4 linked regions of the Homo sapiens genome follow. The protein of the gene in region 4 interacts with the protein of the main gene of each other region in a pairwise test. Each region holds a gene or a part of one and is shown on either strand. Other genes may lie near its edges.

Region 1 (4,459 bases), on a different chromosome or scaffold from region 4:
AAGGAATCCTCCTCATGAGACAGGTGAGTGAACCAGGAGAGGGAGTTCCAGGTGCCCTGCAAGGTTGTTAGCAGTTCCCTGTTCCCAGATAGTTTTGTCAAAGATCTCAGAATAAGAGAGGAAAAAATTATGTAAAACAAAAATGCGAAGAATGGGGTAGTGAGAATGAATGAATGTAAAACCCTGGTCTGATCCATAATTAGTCACTTACATGCGAAGTCTGGCGAGCTCTCTGGCCCTCTGCTTGTGGTGGACCCTCTGCTTGTGGTTAAGCTGGACTTATGGTGGACAGTGTCCCCTTTAGTTCTAAGAATCCCCTATCAATGGTGAACCTCTTTTTTTTTTCTTTGTATTTTCCTCAAGAACTGTGTGACAGAATATCTAGATGTGTGGTTGATTTTAATTTTTTATTTCATTTTATTTTTGAGACCGAGTCCTGCTCTGTTGCCCAGGCCGGAGTACAGTAGTGCGATCTTGGCTCACTGCAACCTCCACCTCCTGGGTTCAAGCGATTCTCTTGCCTCAGTCTCCTGAGTAGCTGGGATTACAGGCACATACCACCATGCCCGCCTCATTTTTTTGTATTTTTAGTAGAGACAGGGTTTCACCATGTTGGCCAGGCTTGTCCGGAACTCCTGACCTCAGGTGATCCACCTGCCTCGGCCTCCCAAAGTGCTGGGATTACAGTTAGAGTCTCCATGCCCGGCTGATTTTAAATTTTAAAATTAAGCCTTGTATAGCCTGGGCAACATGGTGAGACCCTTCCACAAAAATGAATAAATAAATAAAATTAACCAGGTGTGGTGATGTGTGCCTGTAGTTCCAGCGACTGGGGAGGCTGAGGTGGGAGGATCCCTTGAGCCCAGGAGGTCAAGGCTGCAGTAAGCTGTGATCATGCCACTGTCCTCCAGTCTGGGTGACAAAGCAAGACCCTATCTCTTAAAAAAAAAAAAAAAAAACCCAGGTGTGGTGGCCCATGGCCTGTTATCACAGCACTTTGGGAGGCCGAGATGAGAGGGTTGCTTGAGGCCAGGAGGTTGAAGCTGCAATGAACTGTGATTGTGCCAGTGCACTCCAGCCTGGGTGATAGAGCAAGTACTCTGTCTCAAAAAAAAAAAAAATTAAACTGGTTATGAAAGATTGCTGTATTGTCTTTTTCTACGTGACAAGCATTTGTTCTCCATCACGAATAATTCAGTCAAAATCAATTCATTTCTAAACAAAAAGAGTTAAGTTTTCTGTTTTTTAGACTTTACCATCCAGCACAGCTGACAGTCCATTGGCATTACTTTAAAGTAACTTTTTGATAACTGATTCCTAAATTGCTTTTTGAATTTGTTTATTCTATTCATTATTGTTTTGAAGGAAACCTTTGTCAAACCAATCCAAGCGTGGTAGTTAGTAAACTATGAATTTAACGGCACATTTCACCAGTAAGACCCTCCTTCTCAGTATGGTTGAAATCCAGTATCATTATTACTTGAGACAGGGTCTTGCTCTGTCACCCAGGCTGGAGTACAGTGATGCGATCACAGCTCACTGCAGCCTCAACCTCCTGGGCTCAAACGATCCTCCCACCTTGGCCTCCCCACGTTTTGGGATTACAGGTGTGAGCCACTGCATCTGGCCAGTGAAATCTATTATTTATCAGATCTATCTTCATGAAAATTTTGTCTTATTTAAAATAACATTCCAACCCCTTTTCTCTCCTTTAATTAACAGAGAAGTACAACAGTTCCATCCTGCTGTTAGAAACTCATCTGAGGTGAAATTTGCTGTTCAGGCTTTTGCTGCATTGAACAGTAATAATTTTGTGAGATTTTTCAAACTGGTCCAGTCAGCTTCTTACCTGAACGCTTGTCTTTTACACTGTTACTTCAGTCAGGTGAGTAAATGAGCTGTGCTTGCAGAGTTGGAAGAAAGCAGGTGGTTCTTGTGCTGTTTGGGTGCTTTCTTATTCCAAGCTTTTCAAAGGAGGTCTCAGGCTGATGCTGTGTCACCCTTGCAGCAGCCCCACGAAGGGGTTACCGGTGTTGCCCTGTTTTATAGGGGTTATCACTGTTGGTCACCATCCGGAAAGGCTGTGCAATGGAAAATACTGTTCCATGGTTCAAATAAGAAAAATCTCTTTGGGAAAACATAGGTTGAATTCAGCACTATCATCATCCATGAAAGCTAACTAAAAAGCAAAAATCTCATATCATATGCACAAAATCTCTGACTTTGAAATGCTTCATGTTTTAAATCGAAGTTTCTGGAGTGAGGCTGATGGCGCTAAGTTCCTTTCAGTGGGTGCCTCAGTGTCTGTGCTTTGCCGTGTGCTAGGGTTGCAGAGGCAATGGGAAGGCCAGTCCCTCCCCTGGGGTTTGCGCAGAGTAAACTGTGTCTTGGGGTTTCCAGTCGGTTATTTTGTTCCACTTCCACGGAACTTGGGGATGAGGACAGAGCAGCCCCTGTAGCACCTGCTGTTCTAGGCCCTGCATGATTCCGTTCAGTGCAATGTGACCAGGACCGCGGCCCACCGCACAGAGCGCCACCTCACCTCGCACACACTCTGCTGCCCATTCTGGCAGCGGCTCCAAGGAGGCTGCCAGGATTCCTTGCCACAAGCCCGTAGTGGCCACAGCGTGGGGAGGATGCTGCCTGGGAGATCCTGGGACCTGCCTTGGTTGATCTGTGGCTCCAGGTCATTTCTTTGGTCACACATCAGGGCCTCCTGTAAACAGTGACTAAACCCACAGTCATGTCACAGTCAGAAGGTCTTTTGCAGGTTTGCTCCTTGTCAGATCTGCAGGTTGCCAAACAGAACTGATATTCTGGAGTAAATGAAAAGGTTTTCCACAACTTGCCACTTGTAGTTAATATTGGCTGGGTGCTTTGGCTCACACCTGTTATCCTGGCACCTTGGCAAACTTGGGAGGTGGGAAAATTGCTTGAGCTCAGGAGTTCAAGGCCAGCCTGGGCAACATAGGGAGGCCCTGTCTCTACTAAAAATAAAAAAAAAGCCAGGCAGGTGTGGTGGGATGCTCCTGTAGTCCCAGCTACTCAGGAGGCTGAGGTGGGAGGATCGCTTGAGCCCAGGAAGTTGAGGCTGCAGTGAGCCAAGATCTGCACTCTCCAGCCTGGGCAACAGAGGCCCTCTCAAAAAAAATAAACAAAAATAAAACATAGTTAATGTTGTATACACGATGATTGAGCGTTAGTAGAATGTTGACCATTTTTAATAACTTTATTTATTTATTTATTTAGAGATGGAGTCTCGCTCTGTTGCCCAGGCTGGAGTGCAGTGGCATGATCTCTGCTCACCGCAACTTCTGCCTCCTGGGTTCAAGTGATTCTCCTGCCTGAGCCTCCCTCCCCAGTAGCTGGGACTACAGGAGCCCGCCACCACGCCCAGCTAACTTAGTAGAGATGGGATTTCGCCATGCTGGCCAGGCTGATCTCGAACTCCTAGCCTCAGGTGATCCACCCACCTCGGCCTCCCAAAGTGCTGGGATTACAGGCATGAACCACCTTGCCTGGCCGTTTTTAATAACTTTAAACAAAAGAGATATTCGGGTATTTTTCTTTAGAAAAGCTCTTCACCGGCAGTGGCGCACAGAGGCAGCCTCCTGTCCCCGCAGCCCTGTGCACTCCTGCTCAGAGGCTTTGTGCTTGCTGTTTCCACTGCTGTTCCACACTCGCAGAGCCGCACGGCGCTGTCTCCACCTCCCTGAGGCCAGGCGAGGCTTGGCTGCCGCCCTCAGCAGGGCCCCCACCAGCGCTCCCTGCTCTCCCTGCCCATCTGCCGCACTAAATCACCATTCTGTGTGTTTGATGTGTTTGTTTTCTGTGGCATTGGTCTCTCCCCTGGCATGTCAGCTATGTGGGGACAGGGATTGTGTTTTTGTTCACTGTTGTACTCTCAGCATTAAAAACGGTGCCAGGCACAGAGCAAATGCTTGATCAGTGTTGGTTGAATTAAAGAACATCGGAAGAGGACTAACAGCTTAGGTACCAAAGTCCCAGCACTCAAGCAGAATTTTTGTTCGGATTTTCATGTTTTTCCTTTGTCTATTTTTACTTTTATTTTTATTTATTTATTTTTTTGAGATGGAGTCTCACTTTGTCACCCAGGCTGGAGTGCAGTGGCATGATCTCGGCTCACTGAAACCTCCACCTCCCGGGTTGAAGTGATTCTCCTGCCTCAGCCTCCCTAGTAGCTGGTATTACAGGTGCGTGCCACCACACCCAGCTAATTTTTGTATTTTTAGTAGAGATGGGGTTTCACCATGTTGGCCAGGCTGGTCTCAAACTCCTGGCTTCAAGTGACCCGCCTGCCTTGGCCTCCCAAAGTGCTGGGATTACAGGCGTGAGCCACCACACCCAGCCCCATTGTCTTTTTTTTAAGACACTGGTTCTCACTCTGTCACCTAGGCTGGAGTGCAGTGGTGTGATCAAGGCTTACTGCAGCCTCAAC
Region 2 (4,459 bases), on a different chromosome or scaffold from region 4:
ACAAGGCTTCTAATTGAGCCAGATTTGCCATTCCTTTTTCCTGTTTTTCTTGGCTTACTGACTTTGATATCAAACTTTTCAATTCTAGTTGGGACACTGAGCTATTCAAGTCATTTAATTTATCAACAACATCAGTAGGCTCATGCTGGGAACTAAGCTGAATAGTTCCTGCAATAAAGGAATCAAAATCAAATCCCTGATTCTTTTCCCTTTCTTTTCCAGCCAGTTGCTGTGATGCTTCCTCTAGCGCTATCTGGGCTTTAACCAATCCATTCCTTTCACATTTTGATTTGCCTTTCTTATCAGATTTTTCTTTGCTTTGTTCTTTCCAATTGGAAAGATCTATAATAAGCTTGGGTTCATAGTAATGGTTAACTTCACTCTCTCTCCAAACTAAGTTATCTAAATATGATGATGACCTCGTTTTGTAGTTACAAGTATGGCTACACTCCAGATCACAATATTTGTTTTCATGATGATCTGAGTATTGCCAACAAGGCTCAGTAGAGTAATTGGTATCAAAAGCAGGATCCTCCAGATACTTTTCCCGATCTCCATCCAAATATTTTCGGGGATCAACTTGTACTTCTTCTTCATCAGTGACATCGGACAGAGCTCTTGGATCAAGCTGAACTTCATCAATATCAAAGTTGTTATGTACAGGCCAATCATGCTCTGAAAACTGACAATCATGATACCTGAAAAAAATCAATACACTAGCGTTATTCTACGTATATGATTTCATTTTCAAATTCACCGAGTACCTTCTATGTGACAGCACTGTGCTAGGTCTATGAGGGGATAATTATAGGAGAGTAAATATGCCTGCCTTGCCCTACCAGAACTTAGTCTTGATAGGAAAGCTCTGTTAATATATTTGGTAATTGCCAATGCAGTATGTAACTTCATTTCCAATTTGTTTTTTGTCCACCAGTTCCATGCAAACAAAAGACTTCATAGCCACAAAATGCAGATCTCAAATCTCAATCAGGTACCTTACAAATGTTTACTCTACAGTAAGGGCAACTAGAAGAGGAGGAGGTTTGCTAAATGTTTACTCTACAGTAAGGGCAACTAGAAGAGGAGGAGGTTTGCTGGAAAACTCATCACCATGAATAGCAAAAATCTCCCTGTGTATACGTGCTGCTGAATGCGCTATCCTATTACTGACATGTATAATCATTGAGGGAAAAGAAAAGAGATTAGATAACTTAGCTAGGTAAAATAGAAAATGCAGGTCAGGTGCAGTGGCTCAGGCCTGCAATGCTAGCACTTCAAGAAGGCCAAGGTGGATGGATCACTTGAGGTCAGGAGTTTGAAACCAGCCTGGCCAACATGGTGAAACCCCCACTACTAAAAATACAAAAATTAGCTGAACATGGTGGCGGGTGCCTATAGTCCCAGCTAGTAGGGAGGCTGAGGCAGGAGAACTGCTTGAACTCAGGAGGTTGCAGTGAGCAGAGAGATGGGCACCATTGCACTCCAGCCTGGCAACAGAGTGAGACTCCGTCTCAAAAAAGAAAAGAACCATTATTTAGGGGGTAGAAATGGACACATGGAGAAAAAAAGTAGTTTGCAGATTTGTGTAAACATACCATACCAATACATCAACATTTGAGGAGGGGGAAAAAAATTTCTTCTTAAAATCTTAAGATTAAAAAGATTGGCATTAGTGGTTCCCAAACTTGGCCATACATCAAAATCACCTGATGACTCTATAAGCTACCATCCTACTCTGAAGCATCAAAATCACCTGATGACTCTATAAGCTACCATCCTACTCTGAAGCAGAATTATATCTAAACTTCCCCAGAAATGTATTTATTTATTTATTTGAAACGGAGTCTTGCTCTGTCGCCCAGGCTGGAGTGCAGTGGTGCAATCTCGGCTCACTGCAACTGCTGCCTCCCAGGTTCAAGTGATTCTCCTGCCTCAGCCTCCTGAGTAGCTGGGACTACAAGAGCCCGCCATCAAGCCTGGCTTATGTTTGTATTTTTAGTAGAGACCGGGTTTCACCACGTTAGCCAGGCTGGTCTCGAACTCCTGACCACAGGTAATTGGCCTGCCTCAGCCTCGCAAAGTGCTGGGATTACAGGCATGAGCCACCGCGCCCAGCCAAACTTTCCTAGAAATCCAATTATTTCACTTTATGAAACATCAAAATATGGATAACATTATACACTAATGTTTAGACCTAAAAAAGTCTCTTTTACTGAACCTATGTTAAGTGTCCCCAAATTAATTGTGTCATTAGGAAAACAGATTCAAATACTGGCTGAGTACGGTGGTTCACGCCTATAATTTCAGCACTGTGGGAGGCCAAGGCAGGCAGATCACCTGAGGTCAGGAGTTCGAGACCAGCCTGGCCAACATAAAATCCCACCTCTACTAAAAATTAGCTGGGTACCTGTAATCCCAGCTACTCGGGAGGCTGAGGCAGGACAGTGAGCTGAGCTTGCATCACTGCACTCCAGCCTGCACTCTAGCCTGGGTGACAGAGTGAGATTCCATCTCAAAAAAAAAAAAAAAAAATCCTGCATCTAATATGAATCAAATACTTTTTATGTTAAGATATAACTACCACTGAGACACTGGAGATACTTTATTGGATATGACTGAGTCTTGTCATCTAACATCTTAAATTTTTGACATTCATAAAATCACAGTTAAAGGACTTTATAAATATGCCTTAATGACTTTGAAAATGTTTCAAAGTAGCATTTAACTTTTCCCATATATCATCTAACCAGTAATTACTTTATTAAATGTTTTAATTAACGGCTATTTATAGATATAAATATTAAGGACCATTACTAAATTTTTCTTTGAGATGGAGTCTTGCTCTATTGCCCAGACTGGAATGCAGTGGCATAATCTCGGCAGCCTCGGCCACTTGGGTTCAAGTGATTTTCCTGCCTCAGCCTCCAAGTAGCTAGGACTACAGGCGCCTGCCACCACACCTGACTAATTTTTGTATCTTTACATTACTAAATTTTTAAGACTTCTACAATGTCTTATACATAATTTTAAAAAAACTCACTACATATGGTCCACTGAAAGTTCAGTAAATATTATTTTTCTAATTTAGGATCAATTTACCTTTCCCAGTTATAAATGTGACTGTGAGTTTCATCCATAAGCAAAATATCATCAACTTCATCTTCAATATGAAAAGGATGGCTTGAAATTGGCTCATCCATTGGAAAAGAATATATGCTCATGTAAGGATGGGAGAGTGCTTCTTCTGCTGTTAACCGATCCATGGGGCTAAATGTCAAAATTTGTTCCAGGAAATCCAGTGCTGCAGAGGAAAAGGTAAAAGTTTTTCAGAAAAGAATTGCTTACCTTTAGAAAAACAGTAAATGTTGATCTCATTTATTTCAATGACTAGCTAAGTGATTACCTTAGCACTACATACTACACAACAGGAAATGAGCATCTTAATTGTACTAATAGGTCCCCATCTTATAAAAGGGAAAAATGGACTACACAATTAAAAAGTTAATTTGTCAGAAATAAAACTTACCTGATTTACAACTTAAAAACGATTTTCTGGCTGAGTGTGGTGGCTCACGCCTGTAATCCCGGCCTAATATATAGGTTTTAATCCTAGCTCTGCAAGTCACTGGCTTAACTCAATTACTAGCACTGTAGTGCTGGATAGGCTACTAAAACTTGATGAACATCAGTTTCTTCATGCATAAAGTAGACATAGATATTTCATAAGGTACAAAAATGAGATGTAATCATAGTGTCTGGTATGTAATAAAAGCCCTTTCCCATCCTTCACTGATGGGAAGTACAACAGTAAAACATCTCTGTTGTACTAATTTCTTGATCTCTGCTTCACATCACACTCCAGCATAGTTCACACACTGACCTTGCACATCTTAGGACTCTGGTTAACCACAAATCCAGTTCTTCCCATAAAATAGTCTAGTAGGCCTTCCTTAGTTCCTCACGCAGCCTGAAAGCTATATTTACACCAGCCACACACTTCTATGCCTTATGATATCAACCTTCAACCCTGGATCACCACCACCATCTACTCTCTCTGCTCCCTGGCCACACAAAACTGATGAAAACTAGCTGCAATATCCCATATCTGGCTCATTACAAATTCATACTAAACAATTTCATTGTGACCTTTGCTATCTGGCCTTCTCTTTATGCTCTCGGTCTTCTTTATCATTCTCAACAGATAAACCCACTTCACATTTGTCTCAATCCCTACCTCTTCACTATGGTCACTCACACATCCTCTTATCCTTGCCTTCTAAGTGAGAAAGATGGCCTTTCTCTCTCAAGCCAACCTGTACTCTAGAAAGAACCCTTTTCTTTTCTTTAGAAAGATAATTTTAAGACACAGCATCTTTGCGGTTGCCCAGGCTGGAGTGCAATAGCATGATCATAGCTCATTGTAGCCTTGAACTCCTGGGCTCAAGGAATCTTCCTGCCT
Region 3 (3,500 bases), on a different chromosome or scaffold from region 4:
CTGGTTAAGAAGGTTTAGCAGGAGCCTCCAATGAGCACTGTATGTAGAGAAAAGGGAAGGAGCAGGAGGAGGAACAGATCTGCACAGAATTTTTTTCTTAAAAACCACAAAGGGTGACTTTTTTCTTCTAAGCAAGCAAGCCTGAGAGGCATTACATGGGCTGGCTCCTAATATCAAAACAAAATATTTCTTTGCCACAAAGGAACTTGACTATGTAGCAACACATTTACAAAACTACTGCAAAACACTCCCAGAGGGCAGTGACCTACTCTGCTCCCCAGAGGCTCCAAGAAGCAAGGCCTCAAGTGCCTCATGTTCCATGGGGCTGTGCAGTGCAATGCAGAAGGCGGAAATCCTGCTGTGACGCCACCCTCGAGACCTTCTGCAGCCTGAGAGGGGGTGATACTCCCACACCCTTTGATCCTTCCAGATGGCTCAGCCTAGATCTAGCAGTGAGAGAGCCCTCTCCATGCAGGGCAGATGGAGTGGTGGACACTTGTGAAAACAAAACACTAACTGTTCCATCCTGTTATATTTGCTGTGAGGAAAATTAAGATTCCTGTTGTATGGGCTGCACTGTTTCTGGAAGACTACAGAAAATCTAACATGGTTGACACTTCCTGGTAGCCCTTCTGTACATACACACACACACACCCAGAGAGAAGACAGAGAGAAAATCCTGGTCCAAAAGATCACATGACCTTACTAGTGTTTCCCCAATGACTGTAATTTATAAACTAAAAATTTTTACAAATCCACTGCTATCTTCTTCTGTCCTGAGTTTGGTAGACTTTAATGGATGCTCCAGCAATAACCAGAATCTAGGACATGCAGACTCACTGTGAGCGAGAGGCTAGGGATCTGCCCTAAACATAGGAACCTGTTTCTATCAAGCCTGAATGAGGTCAGCTCTGGTAGAATTAATGACAAATCAATGTCAGTGAAATATTCTGCAAACAGGGTAGCTTTTGTGCTTTCTTTTGATTATTTTCTTTGGGGAGATAAAGGTATTGCAACCATGGGTCTAACTAATCTATCACTAAAGGACTGTGACGACATTCTCAATAAAGACAGTCATGGTGTTTACTGTGCCAAGGAGGGAAAATCCCAGATCATCAGAATCCCAGTGCAACAGAAAACAGCACCAGTTTCAACAATTCTGATGTTGGACAAAGCCTCTTTTTGTCAGTTAAGAAAGCGTAAGCACAATCTCTCAGTCAATTGCATTAACAGGAATCCATTCATGTCACTGAAAAATACTTCTTGGCACAGTTCACTTTCCTGACCCAAAGACACCAACAACAATCAAAACTGCACTTTCAGGGTAGTATATTGTTACACTAGCCCAGTCAAAACATACTCAGAACATTTAAAAATGTATAAATTACTGTTAGCACTGCAGTTCCGTTTTATTTTCTTATTTATTTATTAAGACAGAGTCTTACTCTGTTGCCCAGGCTGGAGTGCAGTGGCATGATCTTGGCTTACTGCAACCTCTGCCTCCCAGGTTTAAGCAATTCTCATGCTTCAGCCTACCAAGTAGCTGGGATTACAGGAGTGCACCATCATGCCCAGCTAATTTTTGTATTTTAGTAGAGATGGGGTTTTGCCATGTTGGTCAGGCTGGTCTCAAACTCCTGGCCTCAAGTGACCCACCTGCCTTGGCCTCCCAAAGTGCTGGGATTACAGGTGTGAGCCACTACACCCAGCCCTGCAGTCCCTTTTTAAAGAGTACTGACTGTTTTCCTGCAAAGTACTTTCAAATCCATACCATAAAGGTAGAATTTATCTGGAAGAATGTGTTTTTTGAATTCCACCTGGCACTTGGTTAAATCTACTTTATTTTGCCCTTTATTTATTTGAACAGAACTTTAGAATGCTCTAGGTCAGGAAAAGAAACAGTGTGTTCGTTTTTAAGAAGGATGTGTGAATAGTAAGTTGGCATTCAGACTCAAGTCCCATGGTATTGTTCTTATCCAATGGGACCTCTCCTTGGGAATATAATTCCTTTCCCAGAGGTATCATGGTATCCCAAGAATATAACTGCTCTTTGGCTCTGTGTGTGAAGATTGGGGGAGAGGATGTAAACTAAGAGTATATAGCAAAAAAAAAAAAAAAAATTTTTTTTTTTTTTTTTTGAGATGGAGTTTCACTCTTATCACCCAGGCTGGACGACAGTGGTGCAATCTCGGCTCACTGCAACCTCTGCCTCCCAGGTTCAAGCGATTATCTCGCCTCAGCCTCCCAAGTAGCTGGGATTACAGGCGCCCACCTAATTTCTGCATTTTTAGTAGAGACGGGGTTTCACCATGTTGGTCAGGCTGGTCTCAAACTCCTGACCTCAGGTGATCCACCTGCCTCAGCCTCCCAAAGTGCTGGGATTACAGGTGTGAGCCACCGTGCCCAGTGAGTAGACAGCAAAATTTAAAGTTCACCAACTGATGTTCCCAAAAGTGCTGAACACTAAATGACACAGGGCTATGAGGTACATACATTTCTTTTAGTAGGAGGGAAAAGTAAAAGCTTTTCAAAGTTTGAGTGCTTTATTAGAATTTTTAAATGAGGCGAACTATGATTTTAATTTCACATCTTGGCTAAGGAGATGCCACTGGAGTACAGAGATAATCTCCTGTCTTAAGCCACGGATCAGTCAGTGTAGCCCTCCCTACCCCTCAATCTCAAGACCCTCTTACTTCCGAACTAAACAACACAATTGGCAAATGAAGCCAGCACGAAACTGTATCAAAAAACAAGAGAGTCTGCAGTGAGCCAGTGTATTATGTAACCACTGTAATAAGTGATTACGTGGCCTCCCATATGGACCTTTCATATCCTGGTGGGAGATGGGAGACCAATTTAATAGCTCTGAGCATGCTCCATGGTGCAATCACAAGTGCCATGCCAATACAAAGACAAGCAAGCAGGTGAATTTCCCTAGTGTACTTTTCAGGAACACGGTTACTCAGTTCAGGGACAGGACTACATTGATGCACCTGCAAAGTAAAGTTGGATGCTTCAGAGCACATGGATGATACCCAGGTCAGCACGGTGTAAGGCATATATGGACACAAAGAGAGGCCATTGTTGGCAATAAATAGCATTACGGAAAAGATTCCAAACCAGCAGAACAGAAATGGACCTGATGCTCCAGTTTTTTAGATAAGTAATCCCAAGAATCCAGTTCCAACTCTACTGTCAACATGTGGGGCAGAATTCAATTTCTATCATTGTTTTTACAGATCTGGGCTGAGGCCATTTGCTCCTTGCTTGGTTAAAAAAAAATAAAAAAATAAAAAAAGGTTTCTTCCTGTTTCTTTCTGGGCAGGGAAATACAGCTTAAAGAAGGAAAGGCCATGAGTCCTGGGAGCACTATGAAGGTAGCTAAACTCTTCCCATATCTACAGTCAATGACTGGGAAATAGAGAAAGGACAGGGCAACCTGCCCAGCCACTAGCATCGAAAACAAAAAGGTATGTTAATTGTGAGGCTCTCAATTCTAG
Region 4 (4,459 bases):
CCATCAACAGCCAAGTTGTGACAACTACATATGAAATATCTGAGTCCGCAAATGCATATATTCTTTCTTCTTCTATCTAGGGAAATACAGGAAGGATTAAGAATTTTTCTGTTAAGAGCCCAAATCTCCTAGAGTCTCAATTTCACTAATACACAGAGAGACACACTACTCCTCCCACACAAGAGCAAAATGTGCCCGAGCCCAAAAAAGGGAGTAGGAAAAATCTTTACAACTGTCTTCAAGAATGAAAGACCACCATTGTAACAACAGTCTATATATTTCTGCTAAACTCAGATTTATGTGGGGGAGGGAAGGGAAAGTGAAAAACAAGTTATACCTCCTCTGAAATGATATACTGTTTGCCATTCTGAGAAGATTCCGTTGGTTCTTGGCTCTCCATTTTCAAACGAGTCTTTACAGCCCTCAGGTGAGAAGTTCACCCTGCAAGATAATGAGATTTGTTCAGGCTAAAATTATTTTTCTGAATTAAACATTCGTCCACAGGACACTAGTCAAAGTACTTAAACGGCAAAAAATTCATCTACCATCAACGCTGCCTGTCTCAGTATGTGAGGGAACTGCCGCAGGTGGAAATGTGAACAGGGAGGCCCGGGGATTAGCCAGGAAGGAAGTGACAGCAGTCCTAGTCACCCTCAGCCACAACAGCCAAGCTCCTGCCATGCCTGTTCTAGGCACTTAGAGGCCACCCTTCTTCATCAGATTTTTCTTTTTTTTTTTTTCTTTTTTGTTTTTTTTGAGAGAGTCTCACTCTGTTGCCCAGGGTGGAGTGCAATGGCGCGATCTCAGCTCACTGCAACCTCCGCCTCCTGGGTTCAAGTGATCCTCGTGCCTCAGCCTCCCGAGTAGCTGGGATTACAGGCATACATCACCAGGCCTGGTAATTTTTATATTTTTAGTAGAGACAGGGTTTCACCACGTTGGCCATGCTGCTCTCAACCTCCTGACATCAAGTGATCTGCCCTCCTTGGCCTCCCAAAGTGCTGGGATTACAGGCGTGAGCTACCGCGCCCAGCCTGATTTTTCTGACTCCGAATCTTAAACTCTTTCCAAGGGAAGACAGAAGAAAGATTTACCACTCTCCATGCCCACCTCTCAGTCTTTTATCCATCTGTTACACCTAAACTTACTTATTTTTTGAGATGTAAGATCTCACTCTGTTGCACAGGTTGGAGTGCAGTGGCGAAATCATGGCTCACTGTAGCCTCTACCTCCCAAGCTCACGTGCTCCTCGCATCTCAGCCTCCTGAGTAGCTGGGATTACAGGTGCATGCTACCACAGCCAACTAATGTTTTAAACTTTTGGTAGAGGTGGGGTCTCACTATGTTTCACAGGCTGGTCTCAGACTCCCGGGCTCAAGCGATCCTCCTCCCGCCTCGGTGTCCCAAAGTGCTGGGATTACAGGCATGAGCCACTGGACCCACCTCCCCACTTACTTTTAAGTTTCAGCATGTATCAAAGTCATAGTTGCAGAGAAAGGATCGAGTAGTACTACAAGTTCTGTTATGAAAAGAGCAGGCCCTTATCCCATTTATTGTATATTATTATTTCCTCTTTCTTTATTCCTTCATTTTCGGACCTTGCCTGTCCGAAGGTCAAAGTCTTTTTTTCTTACCCACACACATGGTTGTTAATTCAGCTGTATATAGAATTATAGACCCAAAGCCAGTTGTCTATGAAACTGTAAGGCATTGCTTAGTTGTCTTACTTCTGGTGCTGCTGTTGAGAAGTCCAAAGCTATTCTTATTCTTGATCTTTTTGCCATGTGACCTGTCTTCCTCCTCTGGAAGCTTGTAGTTAGTCACTTTCATGTCGATGTTATTGTACTGGGAAGTCAAGTGGGTCCTTTCAATCTGGAAACTTCTTACTATGCTTCTTTACAGGGAATTTTTTTCTTGAACGACTTCACTGATGATTTCCTCCCCTGTGTTTTCTCTGTTGTTTCTTTTAAGAACTGTTACTTGGACCAGGCACAGTGGCTCACACCTGGAATCCTAGCCCTTTGGGGGACCAAGAGTCTGAGACCAGCCTGGGTAACATGGCAAAACCCTGTCTCCACAAAAATAAAAAATAAAAAAATTAGCCGGGTGTGGTGGTGGGCACCTGTAGTCCCAGCTACTCAGGAAGCTGAGGCAGGAGGGTCATTTGGACCCAGGAGTTGGGGGTTGCAGAGAGCCGAGATCACGCCACTGCACTCTTACGTTCCACGGTTCTCTAACCTACCCCACCTAACTTCGGCTTCAAAGAAAATACAGCCCACCCAGCATCAACTCTCTTCCCAACTGTCCTAAAGGAAAAAGTGAGTCTGCTCTTTGTTTCTTCTGGGACCCAAAGTGATCATACTACCCATCTGATCTTCAATTTGTCCCCAAGACAGCAAGCTTCCCTATTCTAAAATACAATCAATAACAAAACCAACTGTATGAATATTCATAAAGTGCGTTTACAAATCAAATATCTGATTGACTATCATAGGTAACCCTTGTGGCCAACCTGTGAAAGGTGAGATGATGTTTTAGGAAAGTGGCGGTGAGGCCGGGTGCGGTGGCTCACGCCTCACGCCTACAATCCCAGCACTTTGGGAGGCCAGGGCGGGTGGATCACGAGGTCAAGAGATGGAGACCATCCTGGCCAACATGGTGAAACCCTGTCTCTACTAAAAATACAAAAATTAGCTGGACGTGGTGGGGTGCGCCTGTAGCCCCAACTACAGGGAAGGCTGAGGGAGGAGAATGGCTTGAACCCAGGAGATGGAGGTTGCAGTGAGCTGAGATCGTGCCACTGCACTGCAGCCTGGCGACAGAGCAAGACTCCATCTAAAAAAAAAAAAAAAAAAAAAAAAGTGGTGGTGAGAGGGACAAAGACCCTCACTCCCCCGGACCTCATTTTCCAGTGAGGAGAAAGGAAAAACAGTGAGGAAGAACACAAAATTTATGTCAAGTGACTCAGCGTTTCATGAAGAAAGATTAAAAAGGATGAGAAGTGTGGGGAAGATGGGAAGAGTAATCTACACGGAGTGATCAGGCAAGGCCTGTTTAATTTGGTGACTTCTGAATGGAGACCTGAAAGCAATAAGGAAGTAAACCACGTAGAAGTTTAAATATTTAGAGACAGACATTAGCATATTGAAACCTGCAGCCCTACTAAGAAAACAGGCACTTATTCCTTTGAAAGTACCATAGATGATAATTTATTAGGTAAACTTTTTTTTTTGAGATGGAGTTTCGCTCTTGTTGCCCGGCTGGAGTGCAAAGGCATGATCTCGGCTCACTGCAACCTCTGCCTCACGGATTCAAGCGATTCTCCTGCCTCAGCCTCCCGAGTACCTGGGATTACAGGCTCCTACCACTGCACCCGGCTAATTTTTACATTTTTAGTAGAGATGGGGTTTTGCCATGTTGGGCAGGCTGGCCTCGAACTCCTGACCTCAGGTGATCCACCAGCCTCAGCCTCCCAAAGTGCTGGGATTACAGGCGTGAACCACCGTGCCTGGCCGCTAAAAGAGAGTATTTCTTTGGAATGCAATCAGCCTCAAAGGGAAACAGTATCGTGCAGCAATCCACTGATTCCGTGAATGACAAAAATGAGCTATTTCAAGAGCATATTCTTAACTATGAGATTCCCAAACATTTCAGAAGGACTGTAAAAGTACCTCAGAAATTTTTAGAAACAGAAAAGGAATGTTGTTTTTAGCACCATTTCAAAAGCAGAAGCCAAATAGTGCCATTCGGGGGCCAGTCACTGCCAGCAACACGCTGCAGAAAGAACGAGAAATGAGCTTTAAATTCCGTGCTTTGTAAGCCAGCGTCTCCGCCACTGCAACGGAGTTTGCCTTCACTGACTCAACGCTATTTCAAGATTTAAAAGCAAACTTTGATATAAATTTTATCCACTTCATTAGTTAGAATTTAAGGTAATTTGCATATTGCCAATATGTGTATGGTATGAAAAAGATACATGTACACGATGTTGAGTGTTCTACAATTTTTTTTTTTTTTTTTGAGACAGAGTCTTGCCTTGTCGCCCAGGCTGGAGTGCAGTGGCGCGATCTCCGCTCACTGCAAGCTCCGCCTCCTGGGTTCATGCCATTCTCCTGCCTCAGCCTCCCAAGTAGCTGGGATTACAGGTACCTGCCACCATGCCTGATTAATTTTTTGTATTTTTAGGAGAGACGGGGTTTCACCGTGTTAGGATGGTCTCGATCTCCTGACCTCGTGATCCACCCGCCTCGGCCTGCCAAAGTGCTGGAATTACAGGCGTGAGTCACCGCGCCAGCGAGTGTTCTACAATTTCATTTATGATTTTCCTTAGTCTTTAAAGTCACAAGCTGTTTTAATTCTCATAAATCGTTTTAACTCAGTTCAGTTTGAACACTGAAGGTCTAGGATGTGTTGGATGTGTAATTCTCCAGAGCATAAAAAAAACACTAGTGAGGGGAAA

The links.
Region 1: the proteins of NUDT5 (region 4) and MCM3AP interact in a two-hybrid assay, tested with the Homo sapiens proteins (one large-scale study listed by BioGRID and IntAct).
Region 2: the proteins of NUDT5 (region 4) and MAPK6 interact in a two-hybrid assay, tested with the Homo sapiens proteins (one large-scale study listed by BioGRID and IntAct).
Region 3: the proteins of NUDT5 (region 4) and NUDT3 interact in a two-hybrid assay, tested with the Homo sapiens proteins (one large-scale study listed by BioGRID and IntAct).

Annotation. Positions count from the first base shown.
Region 1 is NC_000021.9:46,267,827-46,272,285, reverse strand, and holds part of MCM3AP (germinal-center associated nuclear protein), read left to right. Parts: intron 1-1,722; coding exon 1,723-1,885; intron 1,886-4,459.
Region 2 is NC_000015.10:52,060,141-52,064,599, reverse strand, and holds part of MAPK6 (mitogen-activated protein kinase 6), read right to left. Parts: intron 3,302-4,459; coding exon 3,100-3,301; intron 699-3,099; coding exon 1-698. UniProt on the Homo sapiens protein: Atypical MAPK protein. Phosphorylates microtubule-associated protein 2 (MAP2) and MAPKAPK5.
Region 3 is NC_000006.12:34,284,670-34,288,169, forward strand, and holds part of NUDT3 (diphosphoinositol polyphosphate phosphohydrolase 1), read right to left. Parts: 3' UTR 1-3,500. UniProt on the Homo sapiens protein: Cleaves a beta-phosphate from the diphosphate groups in PP-InsP5 (diphosphoinositol pentakisphosphate) and [PP]2-InsP4 (bisdiphosphoinositol tetrakisphosphate), suggesting that it may play a role in signal transduction.
Region 4 is NC_000010.11:12,185,892-12,190,350, forward strand, and holds part of NUDT5 (ADP-sugar pyrophosphatase), read right to left. Parts: intron 442-4,459; 5' UTR 401-441; coding exon 338-400; intron 1-337. UniProt on the Homo sapiens protein: Enzyme that can either act as an ADP-sugar pyrophosphatase in absence of diphosphate or catalyze the synthesis of ATP in presence of diphosphate.